Linked DNA regions of Homo sapiens. Changing the gene in region 2 together with the main gene of any one other region gives a genetic interaction. Each region holds a gene or a part of one and is shown on either strand. Other genes may lie near its edges.

The links.
Region 1: changes in MAP3K4 (region 2) and TOP3A are lethal when combined (synthetic lethality), as found in Homo sapiens cells (one large-scale study listed by BioGRID).

The regions. Positions count from the first base shown.
Region 1 is NC_000017.11:18,280,443-18,284,259, forward strand, and holds part of TOP3A (DNA topoisomerase 3-alpha), read right to left. Parts: intron 2,400-3,817; coding exon 2,256-2,399; intron 217-2,255; coding exon 94-216; intron 1-93. UniProt on the Homo sapiens protein: Releases the supercoiling and torsional tension of DNA introduced during the DNA replication and transcription by transiently cleaving and rejoining one strand of the DNA duplex.
Region 2 is NC_000006.12:160,994,507-160,998,323, forward strand, and holds part of MAP3K4 (mitogen-activated protein kinase kinase kinase 4), read left to right. Parts: intron 1-3,817. UniProt on the Homo sapiens protein: Component of a protein kinase signal transduction cascade. Activates the CSBP2, P38 and JNK MAPK pathways, but not the ERK pathway. Specifically phosphorylates and activates MAP2K4 and MAP2K6.

The DNA.
Region 1 (3,817 bases), on a different chromosome or scaffold from region 2:
ATCCCCGACACTCCTCTCTGGGTTCTGGCAGGAGCAAGGGAAAGATGGTGTACACACTCCAGAGGAGGCACCTGACTCAGGTGCCCAGCTCACCTGTACACAGGGTGTGGCTGACAAACTGGACACACACTGCTGTCCCTGCTGGCCTCCAGCACCGAGTCAGGAAGCCACACAGCTGAGCGACACTCTGGGAAACCCATGCAGCTGAGGTAGAACCTGGGGACAAAGTGCCATGTCAGATGATAGGAGTGCAGGAGATGCTCTCCGCTGTTGGCCATCAGCTAAGGCAGCCTTTCCTCAGCTGCCCGAGGACAACATTCCCTTTTCTGGATGACACTTAACTGGATACACAAGCACTCATATTGAATTGATTGGGAAAAATGAGCCTTCTCACATCCCAAAAGCACAAAGCAGCTATTGCTGGCCCTGCTTTCTATTTAGAAAACCAACAACCAACCAAGCTGACGCCAGGGGCTCTGTGCTGTGCACTCACACATTCTTGCCTTTCTGCCTCGTGCCAAGTCTGGGCAGTGTCAGGGGCCCCCTCAGTTTGCATGTGAGTAAACAGTGGCTTGGTGTGGCCTGGAAACCTGCCCAGAGACATGCATGCATGTGTGGATGGGAGCCAGGAATGGAAACCCATCTGTTTGTGACAAAGCCTCACCTGCAACATCTACACCCCACCCACTGCCCATCCATCCCATCCCGGTCTCTCCTGGCCAATGTTTTTCAACACCTTGCAGTCATGAAACGTTAGGGTTTGACTAGCTAATATGCATGTGATTTACAAATTCCTCATGAGTGTGCCTGGGTACACTATGAAGGAAAAAAAAGCCCCGAACTCCAATCATTTAAATAAGAAATTTACAATCTCAGAAATGGAAATTAACAGATAAATCATGGAGTGGCAAATCCCACAAGATAATCTCCTGACCTTCTGGAGTAACTCAGAGAAGCATTACAAAAGAATAACAGAAGAACAAACGAATAACTAAAGAATAATAATAATTCTCCAATTCAGAGAATTGGAGAATTCAGAGCTAAAACAAAAGTAGTTATTCTCTCTCCTTATATTCCAATGAGTACTAATCCAATAACCTACCGATAGCAAGGAAAACCCATCGACAGCATTTATTAAGTGCTGAAATATACGCCCAGTCATTGGGCTAAGCCTAGAGTGGCACTGGCTTCTGTCTGTGAGTGACGCGAGCCCTGACACCTGCTTCCAGGTCTGGCCCATAGACCTCTTGTTTCTGAGAGCCTGGGTGGCCTTCTCTTCACTTGGGCCAGCCAGGTTAATGATGGCTGGAGGTGAGGAGTTGAGAAACCTCCTTTCTTATTCAGCAGCAAGGAGCACAGCAGTCCCAGGTGGGCCAGGCAGGATGGAAAAAGGCAGTGAAAACCCGGTTTCAAACTCTGCTGCCCACCACGGCTGCTTGACTCCAAGCAAGCACCTCAGCCCTCTAAGCTGCATAAAAATCCCTGCCTTGCAGGGTAGTTAGGAGAATGGGATGAGGTAATGCTTACAGAGCACCACCCTGCATTACACCAGTGAGGGACGGCACCTGATGAATGATGGCTGCCACCCCTCCACCTCGTCTTTCCCCGTGAACTTCCTCCAGTGGCCAGCCACTGGCTCCAACAACCTGATGTGAAGCTAAATTGCCCACTCAGATCTACTATATTTAAAGCGAAAAGGGAGTTGAGATTTTCAGGCCCCATTCAGAACTAAAACTAGGAGAGAACAAAAGTAGTATCTGCTGAGTATCTACAACACATCAGGCAATGTGCTATATAGTCCTGACCATTTTCACCAAATCCTCACCCTTAACACAGCCTTGTAAGTACTGACATTTTATAAAAGAAGAAATTGGGGTTCAGAGCAGGTAAGTAACTTGCTTCAGGCCACACCACTTATATGCGGCATAAGTGGCATTTGAACCCAGACCCACCTAGATCTGAAGCTCATGCTCCTCCATGTGTTACACATTGGGTATATGATGTCCTATCCACAGGGGACAAAAAAACCCCACTATCATTCAGTTTCTCACCTGCTCTGAATTCCCATAGTGCTTTACACCTCAAAGGCCTGATCCCACCCTGCTATGCTTTTAGGCCAACACCTTGCCTGCAGGTTGGCAACAACAGGCCTGTCTTGAAAGATTCCATGGAGTGAAATGGCAGGGTCTTTCGAGCTACGGCTGACACCGCAGGTGCTGGGGAGCAGAGGTGGGGGCAGAAGGCAGCGCACTCACCCGCCATTCTTCTTGGTCTTAAGGACCATGTCCTTGTTGCACTGTGGGCACTTCCTGATGGGCTCTGGCATGGCTGGGTAGATATCTTCTTGCTGGGCCAACTCTGTCCCATTCCCAAAGTACTGGGCCAAGGCCTCGTCCAATCTGAAGAAAAGGCAAAGACAGACACCCATCAGCCAGCAATCGCTGCAAAGGCACCTACAACACTCTTACATGCACACAACAGGCGTGACCTTGAGAACCAGCTGGTCAGTGAGCCGCAGGCCTCCTGCAGAGAACAGACGGCAGACAGAAGACTGAGCTCACCATGGGCCCTGGTGCCGAACCAACTCTTGGGAGGAGAGTCCAGATACAGGCAGATGCTTCTGCTTGTCACCAGCCCACATTAAAAAGTAAAACTGGGCCAAATGTGGTGGCTCACGCCTGTAATCCCAGGCCGAGGCGGGCGGATCACCTGAGGTTGTAATTTCGAGACCAGCCTGACCAACATGGTGAAACCCCGTCTCTACTAAAAATACAAAATTAGCCAGGCATGGTGGCGCATGCCTGTAATCCAAGCTACTCAGGAGGCTGAGGCAGGAGAATCGCTTGAACCCAGGAGGCAGAGGTTGTGGTGAGCCAAGATCACGCCATTGCACCCTAGCCTGGGCAACAAGAGCGAAACTCCATCTCAAAAAAAAAAAGTAAAACTGCACAGGGTCCATGTACAAACTCCAGGAGTGTCTGTCTGTATTAAGTCTAAACTAGCTCATGCCTGCCTTTTCACAACTGGCATGGGGTACTCTAAAGAACAGAAAATAACAAACTGTTATCTTCTATTACAGTCTCACAACACACATCAGACACCAGATGTATGGGAGTTTTCCCCATACACCAAGCAACTCTCCCGCCACACACCAGTTGGACATCCTCTAATTCAATTCAATTCTGACACTATGCACCTGGAGATCCATCTAACGGTTAAGGGCTCAGTCCCAGAAGACTGCTGCCCCAAATTCCCTCAGATGTCAGTCACAAATCCCAGGCTGTGACCTGTGCTTCTGACTGACTGGCTATAAACTGGGGTTCCTCAGACCCCCTCCTTGGTTTGATTCTCAATAGAGTGGCTCACAGAGCTCAGGGAAACACTTTACTTATGCTTACCCGTTAATTACAAAGGATCCAGGTGAATACCCAGATGGAAGCAATGCACAGGGCAAGGGATGTGGGGAAGGGGTAGCTTCCATGCCCTCTCCCAAACACCCACCCTCCAGGAGTCTTTACCTGTTTAGCTATTTGGATGTGCCCCAAACCCAATTGTTTGATTTGTTTTTGTTGTTGTTGAAGAAGTCTCACTCTGTTGCCCAAGCTGGACTGCAGTGGGGCAATCTCGGCTCATTGCAACCTCCACCTTCCGGGTTCAAGCAGTTCTCCTGCCTCAGCCTCCCAGGTAGCTGGGACTACAGGTACGCACCACCATGCCTGGCTAATTTTTGTATTTTTTTTTTTTTTTTTTAGCAGAGAAAGGGGTTTCACTGTGTTGGCCAGGCTGGTCTTGAACTCCTGACCTTGTGATCTACCCG
Region 2 (3,817 bases):
GCCACATTTTCTTTATCCACTCATTGGTTGATGGGCATTTAGGTTGGTTCCATATTTTTGCAGTTGTGAATTGCGAATTGCTGCTATAAACGTGTGTACATGTGTCTTTTTCATATGATTAGTTGTTTTCCTTTGGGTAGATACTCAGTAGTGGGATTGCTGGATCAAATGGTAGTTCTACTTTTAGTTTTTAGGTTTTTTTAGTTTTTTTTGAGACAGAGTCTTTCTCTGTTGCCCAGGCTGGAGTGCAGTGGCGTGATCTCAGCTCGCTGCAACCTCTGCCTCCCGAGTTCGAGCAATTCTCCTGCCTCAGCCTCCCGGGTAGCTGGGATTATAGGTGCCTGCCACCAGGTCCAGCTCATTTTTGTATTTTTAGTAGAGACAAGGTTTCACCAAGTTGGTCAGGCTTGTCTTGAACTCCTGACCTCGTGATCCGCCCATCTTGGCCTCCCAAAGTGTTGGGATTACAGGCGTGAGCCACTGCGCCTGGCCAGTTTTTTAAGGAATCTCCATATTGTTTTCCACAGTAGTTGTACTAGTTTACATTCCCACCAGCAGTGTATAAGAGTTCCCTTCTCACCACATCCATGCCATTGTCTATTTTTTTAATTATTATTTTTAAATTATGGCCATTCTTGCAGGAGTAAGGTGGTATCTCATTGTGGTTTTAATTTGCATTTCCCTGATAATTAGTGATGTTGAGCATTTTTTCTTATGTTTGTTGAAAATGTGTGAAATGCCACCTTTTAATACATTGGAAACCAATAATGTGATAATTTATGCTACCAGGTTAACTGGTTTTGCCACAGACTAGAATAAAACTCTGTTTGCCATCTTTGTCACATACTTTATGTCTGTGTGTCATTGATTAGGAAGGTTGTGTTAATGCACAGGCCTTTTGTAGAATTCAGGCCTGTACATGTTGGCCTCCAAAGCTGTGCAGCAAGTGTGCCATCGTGGCAGGTGCAGCCAGCCCAGCACATCTGCCTAGTGTGTGCTTTCCTCCTGACCCAAGAGTGTTATGCAGTGACCCAGCAACACAAAACAGGCAGAGAGGTCATAGTACTCTATTCCAGTTTTATTGCTTGCTGTCAGTTGTGGATACTTTTGTCCTTATTTTTGATAAAGAATTCATGATAAGGATAGCTGTTGTTATTGTTAGTGATTAAATTTTGAAATAAACATTGCTTATCATTTCTTTTTCAAGCTTCTGGGGCAGTTTTAGGAGGATCCTGAGGTGACTAGGAGAGCTATTAAAACTAATTTGGAACAATTTACCTTTGTGACTTATTGGATCTGTACACCTAAAACACAGAATAAATTGGATATTAAGGCTGATATAATGCTCTTGTTTACTATAACCTTTCATTTAAAATATTTATATTAAAAATAGCCTCATTGTTCTCATTGTCCTTATGAGTACATGCTGCATAAATTTAACAATTAACTTTTTTTAAAAAATGAATTATTTACTTTATATATTTATTGTAAATTCATTTGAAAAACTGGATTTCCTACTAAAAAACTAGTTGAATGTCGTCACTCCTAGGCAATTTGCTCTGCCTCTCGGCTTGAATGTCCACCTTGAGCCTGTGTGTTTCAGTCTTGACCTTGTATGTCAACTGTTCTCCCTGGCAAAGTCAGCCTCCTGTGGTGCTCCAGACTGTTGGTGTAGCATCAGTGATGGTCATGCCTTTACACCACTGTAACAGTAGATGCCATTGGCGGGGGTGGCGTTAGGCAGAGAGGAGTCACCAAACAGCAGTGATGGCAGAAACTTCATGTTTTCAACTGGGGACTTGTCACTTAGGAGGACTTTGTAGTTCCCTTTAATTTTCTGTCATTGTTAGAGGCCACTCTGTTTCCTTCATGTATGCTCTCATGGTGTCCTGCAAATCTTGTTCTGAGCTCTGCTGAAATACGGGGATATAAAGGTCTTGCCTGCTCACTGGATACATTTGTTGTAATAACTTCCTGTTATTTAATAATTCCTCATTCCTCATGACTATGATTTTACTCATAGCATTCTATTGTCTCAGCCTTGTCATTTGACCAGGTAGTATGTATGCTGTTTGAAGACTCTTTAACGTTGCCTATCAGTAGGCTACTGGTAGTGGTTTCTTTAAAGAGAAAATGGAAAACGTGAGAGAAGGAGATTAGCTGAAGACTCCGTAGGTCTTCATAAGCTGGCACTCCCTTGGCACGATAATCAAGGCCCAGACACTCACTGTGCTTGGCTTCTCAGGCACAGATACTCAGCTTTGTCTGTACACCTGGTTAGTCAGTGTATTCTCTTGCTTGTAGAAAGCCAAAGTATAATTAAGAGATTGATTAGTAAGCATGATATTAGCAAGGGAAATGAGTTGAATGATCCCGGTGACTCATGTTAGCAGACCAGTGAGGTGGGCTTGCATCCCTAGCAGGTGCACCCCTGCTTCTGAATGAGAGGCAGTGTGATCCAGACTTACTCTTAGGTTTTTATTTTCTAGGCATCACACAGGCTGCTTTTTTCCCTTGTGTCACAAACTTTCCTAAATTGTTTGGGTTATAGTATGTTTGTTTTAATCTTCAGTCTTTATAACAAACCTTGCTTTTCCTGCTTTAATTTGGGAGTATATTTTATCCTTCTCACTTTAAGATTTCTTTTTTTAAACCTCAGTGGTACGGTACATTTTTACTAATGGTGAGTCTCAGAGGATCACCTTATTGTCTCCATCCCCCACCCAGTATTCTCCCCATAATCTCTGTCCCACCACCCCTCGCCAAGAATCCTTTAGCATAGTTTCTCAGAACAATGTGGCAAAGATGTCAGTGGTTGGTGCTTTCATAAAATTCTTTTTGAATATTGTGTTCAAAAAGGATCATGATGGTATCTGGCTTTTCTGGATTTAAGTCATAAAATTAAATTTTAAAAAATCAGAACCACATCAGAATTCTATCCAGTTATTAAAAACTGTTTTTAAATAGTGTTTAGTGACATGTGAAGATGCTCATGATACAACTCCTTTTGGGGTGGTACCTGAGTAGCTCTTCTTAAGAAGATTCTCAAGTATTTCTGATGTATACATACTCACCGCTGTGTTCAGCAAGAACAAACAGACTATGAAACAGAATTTGCAGAAGATGGGAGCCAAAATTTGAGGTAGTTTTTCATCTCATACACATATTTGTCCACCGGCTGTGTCTGCCCTACTTCACTGTCTTCCTTCTACCTTATTTGGGGGAATTCCTCTCTTGACTCAAACTACATGGTACATATTGGAGCTGCCCTCTTCTTACAGATGCCAGGCCATAGGCATGACACTTGACCCAGTCCAGGCCAATTAGGATTCTTTCCTGGGATTTTTCAAATTGGAGCTGGGAGAGAGAAACGCGCATTTTACTGAAGTATAGGCTGAGAATTCATGAGCCTAGAGCTAGCTTCCTGAAGCTCCTACAGAGGACCTGGTCTCAGAGAGTGATGTTAATCCCCAGAGAAAAGCAGAGAGGCTGAAAGAGGTCTATGGCCAGTTGCCTTTAAAATAAATAAATAAATAAAAATAAATAAAGAGATGGCAGTCTCTGTATGTTACCCAGGCTGGATTCAAACTTCTGGTCTCAAAGAATTCTTTTGCCTTGGCCTCCCAAGTAGGTGGTACTACAGGTGCGCACCACCACACTGTCAGCCAGTTGCCCTTTTGTGCTAGATTTGTCCCTATTTTTCTCCTGATTTGATGTGAGCTAATCTCTATTTGTGCTTAAACTATTAATTTGAGTTAAACTTCTTAAAACCCTAATACTCAGTGTGATCGCATTTTAAAAAGTATGTGCATAGAAA